Regions from separate parts of the Homo sapiens genome. Here region 1 is linked to region 2. Evidence: fine-mapped expression QTL. A gene starts in region 2. The other region holds a variant in brackets. All regions are shown on one strand. Distances are from middle to middle. Region 1 overlaps PDE3A (phosphodiesterase 3A). Region 2 holds the start of PDE3A (phosphodiesterase 3A).

The links. PIP is the estimated chance that this variant, and not a neighbour inherited with it, causes the effect.
Region 1: its variant is the best candidate, but not a certain one, in a credible set for the expression of PDE3A in subcutaneous fat (GTEx, PIP 0.52).

What each region holds. Positions count from the first base shown.
Region 1 is chr12:20,421,570-20,429,569 of GRCh38, forward strand. All of the region lies in intron 1 of PDE3A (phosphodiesterase 3A), which reads left to right. Among named protein-coding and RNA genes, the nearest start is that of PDE3A-AS1, 55 kb to the left of the region's middle. The variant A/G (reference allele first, on the strand shown) is at 4,378.
Region 2 is chr12:20,364,363-20,373,104 of GRCh38, forward strand. It overlaps PDE3A (phosphodiesterase 3A), which reads left to right and starts at 4,175. Exons shown (of 16, transcript NM_000921.5): 1 at 4,175-5,882. The coding sequence starts at 4,923. PDE3A-AS1 (PDE3A antisense RNA 1) reads right to left here and starts at 5,894. Exons shown (of 2, transcript NR_186033.1): 1 at 5,479-5,894. RefSeq lists a silencer at 5,213-5,507.

The DNA.
Region 1 (8,000 bases), 57 kb after region 2:
TGTGTACTCCTCAGAGTTTTATTGGTAATAAAAAAAAAAAAAAAAACCACCCATGCTCACTTTTGTGCTTGGGAACAGAATCTGTTTCTAACCTTTGCTATTAACAGGAAGTGGGAGAGGTGAAATGAGCCCTGGTTTTGTGGCCGGGCCAGAGCACTCTGTGTTCCTGAGAGTGGTATTCAGGTTTCATGTCTGTCTAGCTTCTTGCTCCTTTGAATAGCTGGCCTTTGAAGTGCTAAAAACATAGATTGGTAATGAGCAATGTAAAGTAAAGAGTGGGAAAATATTTGGAAAATTCAAGCTCTGAGAATAGCCTGTCTGGGATGATTTGGCTCAGGCTGTGTTGTAACTGTGTTTTTCTTTCCCAGGTAAATTGTGAAGTTTTATGAATATAATAGTATAAATTTCCTCTATAAGAATAATTGAAAAATCTCAACTTCACTTGCGTTTTTGGTAGAACGATTGCTATATTTAGTTTAAAATTTTAGGGCGGCAGGCCGGGCGCAATGGCTCACGCCTGTAATCCTAGCACTTTGGGAGGCCGAGGTGGGCGGATCACTAGGTCAGGAGATCGAGACCATCCTGGCTAACACGGTGAAACTCCATCTCTACTAAAAATACAAAAAATTAGCCGGGCATGGTGGCGGGCACCTGTAGTCCCAGCTACTCGGGAGGCTGAGGGGAGAATGGCGTGAACCCGGGAAGTGGAGCTTGCAGTGAGCCAAGATCGCACCACTGCACTCCAGCCTGGGCAACAGAGCGAGACTCTGTCTCAAAAAAAAAAAAATTTAGGGTGGCACTAACTGTCGAGTCTTTTAAAAAGATAATCTATGCCTTGAAGTGCCATTTTTATTTTTGTAATTACAAATGGGTATCAGAAGAATGGAATCTAATATGAAGTTGAGGTCATATATTAAATCTAACACCTTTGAATAAAAGTAGACCTTTTGTTCCATTGCATGTTATTATTGAGGGGCCCCCATTATAATACAACAGTGGCCTGTTTTAGAAAATATTCTCTATCAGAAAAACACCATAATTTAAAAAGACATATTTCCACCAAAGTCACATTCTAAAATGTATACAGAAGGACATGGAATAACCGCATATAGACTTAGTGTATCATGTCCCCATTCTTCCAAGAAAATAGGCAAATTTTGTTAAACAGCCCCAAAGGTAAATATGAATATTTTTATATTTTTAGAAAGGTTTGAATTTTAAAAGACAATCTTAGTTCTAGTATGTTTATCTCTTGCCTTGGAGGCAGTTCTTAAAACTATAAAACTTGAGTTGTGACTGTCAGAATCCAACACTTACATGTTTATTTGGAGGACATAATTTTAAAATACTGACATCTTTATCTAATTTGTTATATTATGTTACAGTAATAGTTTAATATTGTAGTGCATGATATTAGACTTGAAATGCTAGAAATCACTGGAATGTATAGCCAATGAAGCCTGGGTTGATTTTTGATATTTTTGGATTATATAGTACCAAATTATAATCCCATATTCTATATTCAGATCTCTGAAAAAAGTGGCCTTTCATTGATCAAAATATATTTATATAAAACATTTTAATGAAGAATACCTATTTATAAAATATCCAGAGGAAATATATGCAGATGTAAAATTGAGCCCAATAAATCCTTGTGTTTTCATAGGTATGAAAGTTACAATAAATAATGGCAATTAGATATTGTGTGTGTCAGAAAATCAATTTTTCTCCCAAATCAATCCCTCTCTTTCTTTCTGTTTCTGTATCTCTTTCACAGACACAATGTAAACACCTATGCATATGTGCTCATATCTGTTTTAGTTGACTTCTTTCTTGAGACTTTAAATTCTGAAATGTTTTACACTGCATGTACAGCTAAGATTAAAGTCTTCTTTTTAACAGTACACTTTTTATAATGCCTTGAACTTGTTTCTCTGTGGCAGAGGAAAACAGCCTCATGCATCTGGACAAACAAAGGTGTTCCTTCAAAAACAGACTTTCAGAATCATTAATTCTGGTTTAGAAATAATTATGAAGGTTAAGTGGACTCTCATGCGTAAGATTTTAGAGCTGGTGAGTGGCTAATCTGTGCTTTACTTCCCCTTGTTTTCATCCTTCTTATACCACCGGTATTACCGTGCCTCCTCTTAACAGTTTTGTTCCCTCTGTAGCAAGTGAGCCAGAGACAGTGCTTCAGCTTCCTATAGCCTCCTGGTGGTATGCAGGGACAGCTGGCTGAGATCATATGCACTTCTACCCAAACATATCCCAAGGTAAGGCTACAGGTAGTAAAGCTGTGACCAGAAGGTAGATTTAAAAAAAAATTATTTAGGTCCTGGAAATATAGAAAGAGCAGATAGTGCCTATAGTAATAACCAAGTGAGCAATAACTAGGGTGTGAGTGGAGTTATTGTGTTTAGTCTAAGAATGAAGAAATAGCAGTGTTCGGTGAAGTGGAATTTGGTGAGGCATATACAAACCAGAGGTAGAAAGTAGTGGATTTTTGCAGTTTCATGCATAACCGTAAGTGCAGTATTAAAAAAATACATATTGCGAAAGTAAAACTTTTAAAGGATACTTCTCAGCTTGAAATTCTTAATACATTGTAGCAATCATATTAGTTCTTGCTGTAAAATAAGGTGGCTATAAAATAAGTTAGTCAATTTTGAGTTGTGAGTTGAAAAGGAAAAAGTAGTGATTAATGGAGACATGAGCTAGGAAAAAGCATTTGGAGAGCGGATAATTTACATCAGTAGGCCTCTCAACTTTTCTTTACCTCCCCACTGCCCTCTTTCAATTACTTCCCTTAGATCACAAGTTTCTGTTTTAGTAGAAAAATTTTTCTATAGATACAAATAGATGTAAGGGAGCATAAATGAATTCCTGATTACTCTGTAAGCTAAGAATTTAAACATATGTTCAGGATTGTATTTTTATAAAAATTTTTATTGCAAATTATTAATATAGATTCACAGATGAATAAAAAATGATGTGGTCCTATTTATGTAAAGCAAAACAAATATTTGATAGGTGGTGTAGAATGATGTTTACACCTGCCTTATGGATGATTTATGTTGGAACTGCTAGGCATACGTGTCAGAATATCTACTTACCAGAAAATCATAGAAAAATATGCAAGTTTATATCACTCACACTGTGGAGAAAACCAGTCAGTAACAAACTGTTAAGTCTTAACAGTGATTATAATATTGAAAAGAACAATATCAACAGTAGAACAACCATATCAAGACAGTGGATCATGAAGCAATGACTATAGGATTCCCTCCTAAATTTCGTTCATTGTAACACCCACACTGTGTTCTGTCTCTGTGCACAGCACAACAAACTCACTTCAAAGCCAAATGAGGACTTGGCATACTCAGGAAATTCTAGTAATGAGATGCTCTTAGTTTTACTGTTACAGTATGTAGCACTTCATCTTAGGCAAATATGACAGTCTGTGGAATCCTGTGTCATTCATTTGAAAGAACTGACAAAAGAACATGTTTTTAGATCAACTTGCATTTGCAGGAACACACATGGGTTGCCAAAAATATCCATTTAGAGTGTTTAAAAGAGGCACACGCCTGGATTGGCCTCGGTGACCAATAATGTCTGGTGGTAATGCGTGTTTTTTGGAGTAGTCTTTAATTACTAAACAAGGTGGTGACATACATAAAGCCAGTGGGTTTTTTTTCCACCGGCAGATGGGTGCTAAAGAAACTGAGCGATTTTATTTTTTTCATCATATAATATTTCTGATGGTCTTGCCTCCTTCAAGTCTCAACATGTGTCTCTTTAAAGAGAATATTTCACCTTTCAAAATGAAGTCTCCTAATGACTCACTTAAATGTTTATTGTTTTCTTGCCGTAAGGAACTTTGTGACTTGTAAATATGAATTTATGTATGCATTTTTGTATGAATAAATACATTTATAAAATTGATATTTAAAAAGAGCTAGCACTTAAGTTAGGCCAGACGTTTTTCTAAGCACTTTACAGATGCTAATTTTCTAATCCTTTCAACAGCCCTGAAAAGTGACTTTCATATTTAGGATTGAATATAAACTCATTCTAAGATTGTCTATAACCTATTTCTGTGTTGCTTAGCATAGTTCTATTTAAGAGAACTAAGACAAACATATAGAAATATGATGATGACAATGATGATATTATATTACTTTCCCAAGTGTCTGGCACTATGCGTATTTCACCAAGCATTTGTAGAGAAGCGGCAGAATATGATGATTATGAGCCTCAATTCTGGAATGAGACTAACCTGGTTTTAAATCCTGGCTGTGCTTCTTACAGGTTGTGTGATTTGTGGTAAGTTACTTAAATTGTCTGTGCTTCAGTTTCTTCATTTGTTAAATGTGT[A/G]TGACACCTATTTCATAGAATTGTTATACAGATTACGTTAATTACTAAAAAATTATTTCGAGCTCTTAGAATAGGGACTGGCACATATTCAATACAAAATAAGTAATAAAATACAGAGGTATGTATTTGAATATTCAAGACTTCTTGGAAGGAAAATACTTAATGCTGTTGAGGAAAATTTTAAGCAATTAGAATGGCAACTAGAAGAGATTTTGTAACAAACTATAGTGGATTATCTCACATATTTATCCCTCATTCAGGCAACTACACATCTGAGTTCTCTGCTTGTTACTAGAGCTCATGGTTGCTGGCTCCGAATGAGAACTGAATATGAAAATTTTCAGTTTGTGAAAAACATCTGGAGCTTTTAGTTGACTACAAGCTTAATATGAGCCAACTGTATGTTGCAACTGCTTAAAAGAGAAAAAAAGAATAAAAAACCCTGAAGAATTCCTTAGGCATTATAAATAGAAATAAGAGTGTCCACATCATGGGAAGTAACATAGTTGACGTACTTCACACTGGCCGCATCACGGCTGGAATACCATGTTCCGTCCAAGACACCATAATTTTAGGAAAGACTTGGACAAACTGGAGTGCCAGAAGTCTGGAAATATGAGAAATGGAGGAAGTGGGACTGTATAGTGTAGAGAAGACTAATAGGAACTAAAACACTTGTCTCCAACTATTTATAAGGTTGTCATTTAGAAAAATGGACACGCTTATATATTGCCCTAGAAAACAAAGAGTAGAATCAATATAATGAAAGTACCATGTATATTTTTACTCAGTATTAAGGGTGAAAACTAATGGGTACCAGTGCTGAGTCTTGCAGCAATCATATAAGAATTCCTGTATATGGCCGAAGCTTACATTCAGTTACATTCACTAAAATAAGATTTTTGCATTCATATCCTCATTGGGCTTGGGCAGTAAAGGAATTAAATCCCCCAAAAGTTCATTAAAATTTTAGGGCTGTTCTATGATTGCATGGATGGTTAAAATTAGACCTGATGGCACTATTGGTTATTCTAAGAAAGGAGCTAAAAGTCTATATAATTGGTTTACTTTTTATTCAGTCTAGTTTTGAAATCTTAAGAATGGATCAAGGAACATTGGATGAAGAAGGGACACAGGGTAATGTTATTTTCCCAAATTTCAGAAATTCTTCCAATTTAGGTTCAGCAGGTAATTAAGAATGATTTCATGCATGTCAGCAAAAATAGTTTGATACAGGACTCATTGAATATTGTATTGTGTTGGGAACTGATCAGAGAAAACCATGGTGTTTGTCCGTGAACTCTCGTTGCTTTTTATCTAAGAGGGGTTGAAATGTTGCGTGCTTTTGAATTTTATCATGGACAATACTTGAGATTTGTACCAGTACACTAAGGGTTATTTTTAAGGATTGAGTAAAATGGAAGTGTATTAATGGGAAATAGAATAGAAGATAGCTATAGTATGACCTTGGAAACTGACTTTACGTTTTACAGGCATGTTTTTCTTTCCATATTTCATTCTTGTATCTTGAAATAAGCTGTACTTATGGTTAGGTATATGCTAGATCTTAGAATTCCTTTAAATTCATCTTGTCAAAATATCAGCCATTCTGTATGAATATTACCAAGTTTAAGACATTGGTTTATGTTCAATTTCAGCAGTTTGTATAACTGATTTGAAAAAGCAATAAATAGGCTTCAAAATTTTATATTTTTTATAGGAAACAGGTAATTTAATACATTTAATACATTAATACATTTATAATGTATGTATTTTTTCATGAGGTAGACTATGTAAAAAGTAAAGAAGATGATCTAAATCCAGAATTAAAAGGCACAGTCACATTTTTTTTTCTTTTGCAGCATTGGATAGTATCAGTTTGTTATAATCTAGAATATATAATATATTCTGTTTTTACATTTCTTAACTAAATCCTCTTTTTAAAATATAAATAAATATCTTTAAAATAATATTTTAGGCCGGGCATGGTGGCTCATTCCTGTAATCCCAGCACTTTGGGAGGCTGAGACGGGCGGATCACGAGGTCAGGAGGTCAGGAGTAATCCCACATCGTTCAAGTCAGTAATGAATTTATTTGAATCAAAAGTGGATACATTTAAGGAATTGTTTCTATACATCCAATTAGGTAATTCTGGTTGGCTAAATTGAGAGCTGGTCATAATCCCAAAAGACACAATTCTGAATGTCATAATTCTGAATGTTAAAATCCCAGAAGAGTAAAATCTCTAAAGTCTAAAATCCAGAAAATCACAATCCCCAAAACATCAAAATCCTGAAAATGTAATTCTGAAAAAAATTAAAATATTATTATTAGTAGTAGTAGTATTTTTGAGACGGAGTCTCGCTCTGTCGCCCAGGCTGGAGTGCAGAGGTGCGATCTCCACTCACTGCAAGCTCCACCTCCCGGGTTCAGGCTATCCTCCTGCCTCAGCCTCCCAAGCAGCTGCGACTACAGGCGCCCGCCGCCACGCCCGGCTAATTTTTTTTGTATTTTTAGTAGAGACGGGGTTTCACCGTGTTTGCCAGGATGGTCTCAATCTCCTGACCTCGTGATCCGCCCGTCTCAGCCTCCCAAAGTGCTGGGATTACAGGAATGAGCCACCATGCCCGGCCTAAAATATTATTTTAAAGATATTTATTTATATTTTAAAAAGAGGATTTAGTTAAGAAATGTAAAAACAGAATATAGGCCACTTTACACAACAAAATATGCAATAACAACATACATGCTTTTGCACATATAAACACTCAAGTATGCTAATGACAGTCATACTGGTATAATAGTTATGACAAGATGAACTGTCCTTATAAAGAAGTAGGTCAAAAAAGGACAATGTATAAATGCGTACCACTATGATTGATAGTTGTGTGCAACAGCTTTCTAACTTTGGTCATCTGAAATAATATAATGAGCAACCTAAGTCTTTTGACAAGATCCATCAAAAACTGTGATAGGTTACCAACATATATGTAGTCACCCAAAGAGCTGAGATCTCAAGAAATTTTATATTTCACAAATGCAAATGTACAAAAGAACATCTCTTCATTTACTGAGAAAATTTCAATGTTTTTACATACGTACACAACACTTAACACAAAGTAAACATAGTTCACTTCTGTGAAGTCGAATTTGCAAAAAATGCATAAAACAGAACTCTCAAAGTCTCTATACAGTTTATACCTCCAGTAATGGAAACGATGTGAAGATGAAATACATAACATAGTGAATTGCTTTACGGGGTTTCTAGGTATTCCTCAATCCTGTAAAGTTGACATCTACAATTAAGCCCATACGTTCTAGTGATAAATAGAGGTCAGAAAAATAGCATACGTGGGTTTGGCTTCTGTTTTCCTTCTTTTTTTCTTCAGTTATTCTTTTGACTGTGTTTTCTTATTATTAACCCTTGCCTCAAATTGTTCCCTGGGAGAGTGCTGCAGGCTACAGCCCTTTTTCAAATGGTGAAAAATTTGAGAGAATAGTGGTATGAAGAACATTTTGAATGCAAGGCTGTTTAGTTGTGAATATTGCATTGATCACATCTGTGTTTCTGAAGCTCTGTGACTTGCTCTCCTAAGCCTAGAGCAATCTTCACTGAACTAAC
Region 2 (8,742 bases):
TTTAAGTATTGATATAGGCCCGCACTGCTAACAATGTTTTGGTCAATGACAAACCACATATACCACAGTGGTCCCATATGATTATAATATGGTACTTTGTGCCCTTTCTATGTTTAGATACACAAAGATTTACCATTGTGTTACAGTTGCCTAGAGTATTTAATACAGTAACATGCTGTACACGTTTGTAGCCTAGGGGCAATAGGCTATACCATATAACCGAGGTGTGTAGTAGGTCACACATCTGGTTTGTGTCAGTATACTCTGTGATGTTCACATGATGAAATCACCTGATGACGCATTACCCAATCTCAGGTATTCTTTCATAGCAACAGTAAACAGACTAAGACAAGCTTCCACCATGTGCCAGGCACTATTCTGGTAATTGGAGATACACAGCAAACAAGACAGCTATTCAGAGTCCTTGTTCACATGGCACTAACACCCTAGTGAACAGAGATAAATGATAAGTGAGAAAACAAATAAACGAACAAGACCATTTTGTATAGTGATAAGTGCTATAAATACAATGAAACAGGGTAGTATGATAGTGAAAGAAAAAGTGTGTATGTGTACATGGGGTGTCCAAAAATTTTTGATAAGATTCTTGGAAAAAAAGCCTTTCTAAAATAAAGTAACATTTGAGGTTAGACTTGATGGAGCACAAGGGGCCAGCTATGTGAAAATCTCTGGATACCAAGGCCCTGAACAGGGTTTCCCATTTCACATGTATGAAGAACACAAAGGTGGCCTGAGGTATTAGAGATGCATTCTCCATTCCTTTAGACACTAGCCAAGTGAATGTATTAAAATTTAAATTAAAATAAAATACAAAAGTTCAGCTCCTCAGTGACACCAACCATGGTTCAAGTATTCAATGGCCACATGTGGTTAGTGGCAACCATGTTGGACAGCAGAGGGTCTATTTGTCATTGAAGAAAGTTCTAATAAATAGTACTTCACCAGTGAAGTAGGAGCATTGGAATAGGAGGAGAGGTCAGAGAGAATTACTTGGAAAGATCATGAAGGTCCTTGTAGGACTGTCATGAGGACTGTGATGAGGACTGCATTCTGCAAGTACGATGGGTAGCCTTTGGGTAGTTTTAAATAGGGGAGGGACATAATTCAATTTATATTTTTAAAGTGTTACTCTGCTATATAGAAAATGAATTATAAGTAGGGCAAGATCAGTTAGTTACTGCACTTGTCCTGGCCAAGGAAGATGATGGGTCTTTGGCAGGTTATTATAAGAGGGACAGTGAAAAGTAAATGGATTTAGAATATATTTTAGAGACAGGATCAAGTGGATTTCCTAATCGACTAAAAGTAAAACAAGATAAACAAAGGAAAGAATCAAGACCCGTTCCCTCTTCTGGGGCCTGAGCAACTAGGTAGATGGTTATGTTCTTTACTGGGATGTAACAAGATTGAGAAAATATAGTTTGGGTGGGTAGGGGATAGGTAGGAAGGGAATTGTAAGTTAAGAATTTTGTTTTGGATACCTTATGTTTTAGGTACCTATTAGATATAAATATATAATAATCAGATAGGTAGCAGAGAATGATTGAACCCATACTACGGAACGTAAACTTACTGAATTTTACAATAGAATCCCCTGACGCTTAACTATATTTAATAAAGCTCAAATGTGAAGGGTTAGATCCTTTTCCCAAAAAACTGTAAAAACATGTTTGCTAGATTTGACTAAGTGGAAGATTTATCAAGTAAAACTTAAATTTTTATTTCTGTTGTCCATGCTCTACTATTTTTCTGCACGTACAACATTTTCCTTATTCTTTGGCTGTGTTGTCACTTTCTTGAACTAGGACTCACCACTATCTGTAGAAAAGAGGCAGTGTTTATATGTGATTGCTCCCTATCCAGTTTATGTATTGCAGCTTATTTCATTTAATATACTCTGTTAAAGGTACATTATTAGTCGCTTCTTTCAGTTAGTATAGCCCTGCAGGTTTCTGCATCTCTCTAACATTAGCATTTTGTTGTCTTTGTTCACTTGCCTCTGGGTTCTGGATGGTATGGGGAGAAAAATCTACCTTCTTTCCTTTTGATGGGACAAATAACTTTTTGATTATGATTTGTTAAAGAAACCTGGATGCCAGGACATTGCCTCCTTATTTTATTGAAGAGTTCCAGGATGTTATTAACACATGGATTTAGAATATTCTTGTTTTGCTGCCATTAGCAAATGCCATTTTTTCCTGTTACAACTTTTAAAAAACATCTGCTTCCCATACCTTAAGTGTTCAGTTTTTATGATAATATTATATTAAATTTTCTAAAGAACTGAGATAATTGTGGGGGTAGGGGACAGATAAAATTGAAATATTCTAAAATTTCCCTTACTATGCTTTTCTTTTTAACCTTGATATATGCCAGATTTTTGGTTTATTATTTTAATATGTTATTTTTGATGCCAACAGATATGAATGATTTTCCAATCAAGGTTTTTCACTCCGATGTGTCCCAGGTAGGATCTGGCATATGAATCATATGTCTAAAAAGGAAACTCATGAAAGTATGTGTGCGTGCTAGGGGGCTCATTTGTCTTTGGCAAAGACATTGCTGCTCCTGTTTCCTTAATTATTAAACAGATGGTGCCCACTGCCATTGACTAGCTGCCCAACTCATACTCCTGTGTGGTAGCACAATTCTGGACATCTGACAGAGAGAAGCTATACCTTTATAGTATATCTGCCTTCTACTAGAACAGGCTGCTTCCCATGAAGCTGTTTAAAACTTAAGTCATCTTCTCCCCCTGTCCCCATAAATTAATTTTATCTCAAGGATCTCCTTTTGGCTTTTTTTATTGCTTCATGTCTACATACAAAATACAGTGGCATATTGAATCAATTATCTAAATGCTCTAGGCTGTAAATACACTTTAACCTGGAATGTCAAGATAATTAAGACAAAATTGGATTATTAAGATTATTATTAGTGAGGGCAAATGACATCTAAGATAGCCATGTTAAAAGTGGAGTATCATATTAAAAAGACAACTAGATCCCAGGGAACATCAATAGAGTTTAAGTCCATTGAACAGATACTGAATTCTTTTTCATAATCTGCCAAAAAAAGGTTAGCTTGAAAATTTTCTTTTAGTTTCTCAAATATCACACTGCTGCAGTACACGAACCTTTACTCATTAATAACTAAGGTCCTGATTTTTTTCATATGCTTTGCTCGAAGATGTAGTATTTTGCAGCCATAGACAGTCTTCTAAGATCTCTCCTAGTGTTAACCCACCTATCCTCACCTCTCCCTTGAGATTTTTCTTTATTTTTTGATGAACTATCTGGGCTTTTAAACTTTGTTAACCTTTTTTGAGGATACGGTCACTTAATCTCAATGTAATTTTACTTTCCACAGTCAAAAACTATTGTGTAATACTCATGCACTGGATTTAAATGACTGCTGCCTCTCCTTCCTTTCTTTTTATACTATTGTGGTCTAGGTAAGGCTGATTCTTCCATCATTTGAACCAACAGGCCAGGCTTGGGTTCTCATAAAGCAGACCTTCCAGCAGGAGCGACCAAAGGATGACACTGTCACCTGAAATTGGACTGCTGTTGTACCTGACTTGGGAACATCTTTGAATCAGACAGTAGAAGTGGCTGTCATTTTCAGGGACAGTAGAAAGTATGTTGGCTCTCATCTGCCAAGTAGGCAAACACAATCTTTTTTTTTTTTTTTTCCTTCCAACGTTCTAGGGAGCTCAGCCTCAGGGCTAGCCGCAGCCCCCCACACCCCGGGGCTGCGGTGGGCTGCGCGGTGGATCAGCCTCAGCAGCCCCTGCTCCAGCCTGTAGGGTGAACCGGCCGCTTTCCCAGCAAAGGAGCAATCGAGCTGAGGGTAGCGCCTCCTCCGCAGGAGGGGGCGGGAGCTCGGCTGAGAAAGCTTTCCTAGGGAGTTGCCTTAAAGAAAGAAAGCGGAATTGTCGATCACTCCAGTTGCCAGTTTTATACAATTTTAAGCAGTCGTCGCCACTCGTTTCCCCTTTGCAAAACTGCAAATCACCACCAACCTTGCATCAAATAGAAGTGGGGAGGGAAAAAAAAAGCAAATCTCCTTCTCCCTTCTCACCCTCCCTTTCTTCTCACCCTCCCTTCCTCTCTTACTCGCTCCTTCTCCCTCCCTCCCTTCTGCGGCTGCCGCTAGTCTCTCGGTCTGGCTCTCTCTCCGACGGGACTTAGCAACTTCTTATTTCTCAGCCCCTTGTCCATTTTTTTTTTTCCATCCTTTGCCATGAATTGGATTGACAGAGGCGGGGGAGGCTTTGCTTTCTGCCCCAGGGAATGGCGATTCGCGTCCTGGGGCCGTGCCGGGGAGAATCGGCCGAGGAGAAAGAAAGAGTGATAGAAAAAGAGCTGCAGGAAGGAGGAGAAGGGAGACCTCCATCTGCCGCGGGCCCGGCGCGCTGCAGCGCAGCGCAGCGCCGAGCTGCGCCTCGGAATGGCCCGGAGCCCGCCCTGCGCCCCCGGCTCCTCCAGCGTCAGCGGCTCCTGCGCGCGGGATGCATTGGGCAATTTTTGAAATCCTGAAGTAGGAAGAGACCCCGGAGGATATAAGTCGGGGGTGGGGGTGGAGCAGAGAATCTGTGAAAGATATTCAAAGAGAGAAAAGGGGAATCCTGATCGTTTCTGCCCGTGCTTGTTTTCAACTTGAGCGTGCTAGCCTTTAACTTGAAGAAGTCTCATTGGAGCATCTAGCATTCTCCAGGAGTTATTCGAAAGCTGAAACTTTCAGTGGATTGTGGGCCTGGGGAGAAGAAGGATTCCGAGGGTGGAATTGGGAAGAGCGTGCGTGCGTGTGTGTGTGTGTGTGTGTGCGCGCGCGCGCGTGGGTCGGGGCGGGGGCGTCGGGGGGCCACTGGGAATTCAGTGAAGAGGGCACCCTATACCATGGCAGTGCCCGGCGACGCTGCACGAGTCAGGGACAAGCCCGTCCACAGTGGGGTGAGTCAAGCCCCCACGGCGGGCCGGGACTGCCACCATCGTGCGGACCCCGCATCGCCGCGGGACTCGGGCTGCCGTGGCTGCTGGGGAGACCTGGTGCTGCAGCCGCTCCGGAGCTCTCGGAAACTTTCCTCCGCGCTGTGCGCGGGCTCCCTGTCCTTTCTGCTGGCGCTGCTGGTGAGGCTGGTCCGCGGGGAGGTCGGCTGTGACCTGGAGCAGTGTAAGGAGGCGGCGGCGGCGGAGGAGGAGGAAGCAGCCCCGGGAGCAGAAGGGGGCGTCTTCCCGGGGCCTCGGGGAGGTGCTCCCGGGGGCGGTGCGCGGCTCAGCCCCTGGCTGCAGCCCTCGGCGCTGCTCTTCAGTCTCCTGTGTGCCTTCTTCTGGATGGGCTTGTACCTCCTGCGCGCCGGGGTGCGCCTGCCTCTGGCTGTCGCGCTGCTGGCCGCCTGCTGCGGGGGGGAAGCGCTCGTCCAGATTGGGCTGGGCGTCGGGGAGGATCACTTACTCTCACTCCCCGCCGCGGGGGTGGTGCTCAGCTGCTTGGCCGCCGCGACATGGCTGGTGCTGAGGCTGAGGCTGGGCGTCCTCATGATCGCCTTGACTAGCGCGGTCAGGACCGTGTCCCTCATTTCCTTAGAGAGGTTCAAGGTCGCCTGGAGACCTTACCTGGCGTACCTGGCCGGCGTGCTGGGGATCCTCTTGGCCAGGTACGTGGAACAAATCTTGCCGCAGTCCGCGGAGGCGGCTCCAAGGGAGCATTTGGGGTCCCAGCTGATTGCTGGGACCAAGGAAGATATCCCGGTGTTTAAGAGGAGGAGGCGGTCCAGCTCCGTCGTGTCCGCCGAGATGTCCGGCTGCAGCAGCAAGTCCCATCGGAGGACCTCCCTGCCCTGTATACCGAGGGAACAGGTAAGCACTGGCAACTCCTCTCTCGGCTCTTGGAAACTTGAAACACTTGGCAACCGGCGCAGAGTGGAGAGAATCCGAGCGCTGGGAACTAAAGGGAAGATAGCCTAGAAAACTGGTCTAACTTCAGAATTAAGAAACTAGCAGGTTTTTTTTTTGTTTTTTTTGTTTTTTTTTTTTTGTTTTTTTGCCCTCTCTTTCACACAGTAGTTTTATAACCTGAACGACTGAAACACAATTAACAAAACTAGATGGCATGTGTAGGGTCTTCCACAGCTGGGCCAACTTTTTAGATCTGCTACACCTGGTGTATGGCTTGCCTACTCTTTTCAGTACTCTTACGCTTTCCTTCCTTAGCAGAAATTTTAGAATTAAGTTTAGATTTTAGCAATGAGTGATTTTTTTAACACATAGATTTTACTAGATTTCTACTTTTTAAAAAGTAAAATCTTTTTAATGAAATGATATTAAACATTTATGAAAACCAGTAAAAAGATTCTAGAGCAAAGCAAGCTGTGCTTGAAGGTGAGGAATTGATACACATTTTCTGGTTTTGCAGTAAGTTTTATTTGGAGAGACTGCAGCTGATGGTGCCCAATTTGTTTTTAAATATAATTTAGGGGCATACATTATTACATGCTAGTGTGTTTTGTATCACAAACTTCAACTTGGGGAATAATATGTCTGAACTTTGGAATTGTTCAAAATTGTCAACTGCGTTTTAGTGTCAACTAAAAACAAAACAGTTCTCTTTAGTATGTGCATACTTAAGTGGATATTTATAAATTCAAATGGATTTATGCAGATTTTACAGGAAATACTAATTCGGGAGGCCATTTCTAAGATTGCTGGAGATGTATATCTTCCCACAACGTGGGAGGAGGAGGAACCTGGGATTATAAAGTTGTAAATAAAACTTTAGTCACTTTTGGGGATGAGTCTCCTTATTATCATTAAGTGATTTAAAACTATAGAACAGTTGCTATAAAGGGCATAAAGGAACAAATCCCAATTTTAAATGCATACGGTGTCTAAAAAAGCATACCGAAGGGTATGCCTCCCTAGTTGAAGCAGATTTGTTCACCTCTCTATTTGAAGTGGATTTGACACTTGATGGGGAGGAGGAGCTGGTTGGATACAGCAAGTGGAAATTTACATTTTTCCCTTTAAATTAATGCCTACCTGTGGTACTATTAGGACAACTTTAGGGAGCAAGAGAATATCCTAAGATAAAGTAAGCTTTTTCTTTTTAGGTTATTCTGTGGATAATCATTTGGGTATTTCTAAGAAATAGCAGTCACCATATGGTGTGGGTGGCTAGTTGGTTTCTGAAATGGAGTTGATTACACAGATCTATGGCTGTTTGACATTATTGAGCAGAGTAGATGACAGCATCATAGTCTGTTTATTTTAAAGCAAATGTAGTTATTTGCTTTTTGTTTCGATAAAACAAATGTTTCTTGTCTTTAAGCTTACTCTAAGAGTGGAGGGGAAAACAGGCCACTGACTGATAGTTTTGGTAAAAATTTGGAAATTGTTAAAATGGAGTAAGTTATCTATTTGAGGGTAAACTAACCATTTTAATTTCTTTTCACAGTTATGGGAGAGAATGTCTTAAATGAAAACACCACCGCTTTAAGTATGTTCAGAATACACTATTCATTAACTTATAGGGAAATAGGATGTTACTATTGCAAAATTCACAACCATAATTTCTAAGGAAAATCTGGGATTTAATCACAACTTGATTCCAAATTGATATCATTTACCCTGTGGAATTATTTTTTAAAATTTTATATTAACATTTATAAGTTAAGAAATTAAGGGTGGATAGAAGATAAGAAGGTGGTTAGGTAAATTAACCAGCAGCATTCATTTAACCCACACATTTTTATTGGGTTTCTCTGGTTTAAATTGATAAATGGAGAATTTGAATTATCTACGAAGTTATCAAAATAAGCATTGCATATTTAATGTTTTGCTGATTAATGCTGTTGGAAAATGCATAATCGCAATCTATTTCTGTAATTTTCTTTGGTCACTATTTTTTTTAAAGACTGTGTTAATGAAGATTATTCTAAAGTGGGAAACTTTGTCTTATGCTTGATGGAAACACAAGAATACATTTAGCAGAAATTGAGATACTTGAAGTTTTAATGAGGGCATGGGTGAGTGTGTGCGTGTCACTGAAGACTGGTTTTTATATATGACCCATTAAAAGTTGTTGCTGAGCATAATTGTGGGGAGTGGGTGGAAACTAACACAGTGTACTATCTTATAAGATAGGACAGTATCTCATATACGTTAGCCTTACTGTGTGAAAAGTTCAGGAGCTACCCACAGTAAATGGCTTATCTGTTTTATCATAAGGAAACAAACTTCTGATTAAGGGTGCAAAGTGTACCACTGTCATTTGCATACTTTGTGAAGTCAAACATCAAAATAATTATAAAATAAGTATATAACACTCCCCTGAATGTCATCTGCTTTTTTTCTGAAGGAATGTCTACTTTCAACTCAAGACAATACTCATAGGCAACAAGTGAATTTTAAATAGTCATTTAAGAACTTAAACGCACAGTCTGTCAGAGTCCTCTTGAGAATTTATTTGCACTTTGCTCATTGTGAGGCTTACCAGTGAGAGAATTTCATCATTTTCTTCTCTGTATGAATGGCAGTGGCTGGTTACTGATGAACTATCCCTCTTCAGTGACCCTCAGTTCCAAAAGTGCAAAGAGAATATATGATAAAAATTCTCATAAGAGAAACCAATTGACAGATACATTTTTCTCTCTCCCTCCCTTTTTTTCTTTCAAGAACTGTAAGTCTGTAGCACTGGTGTCTGTGAATGCAAGTGGAAATA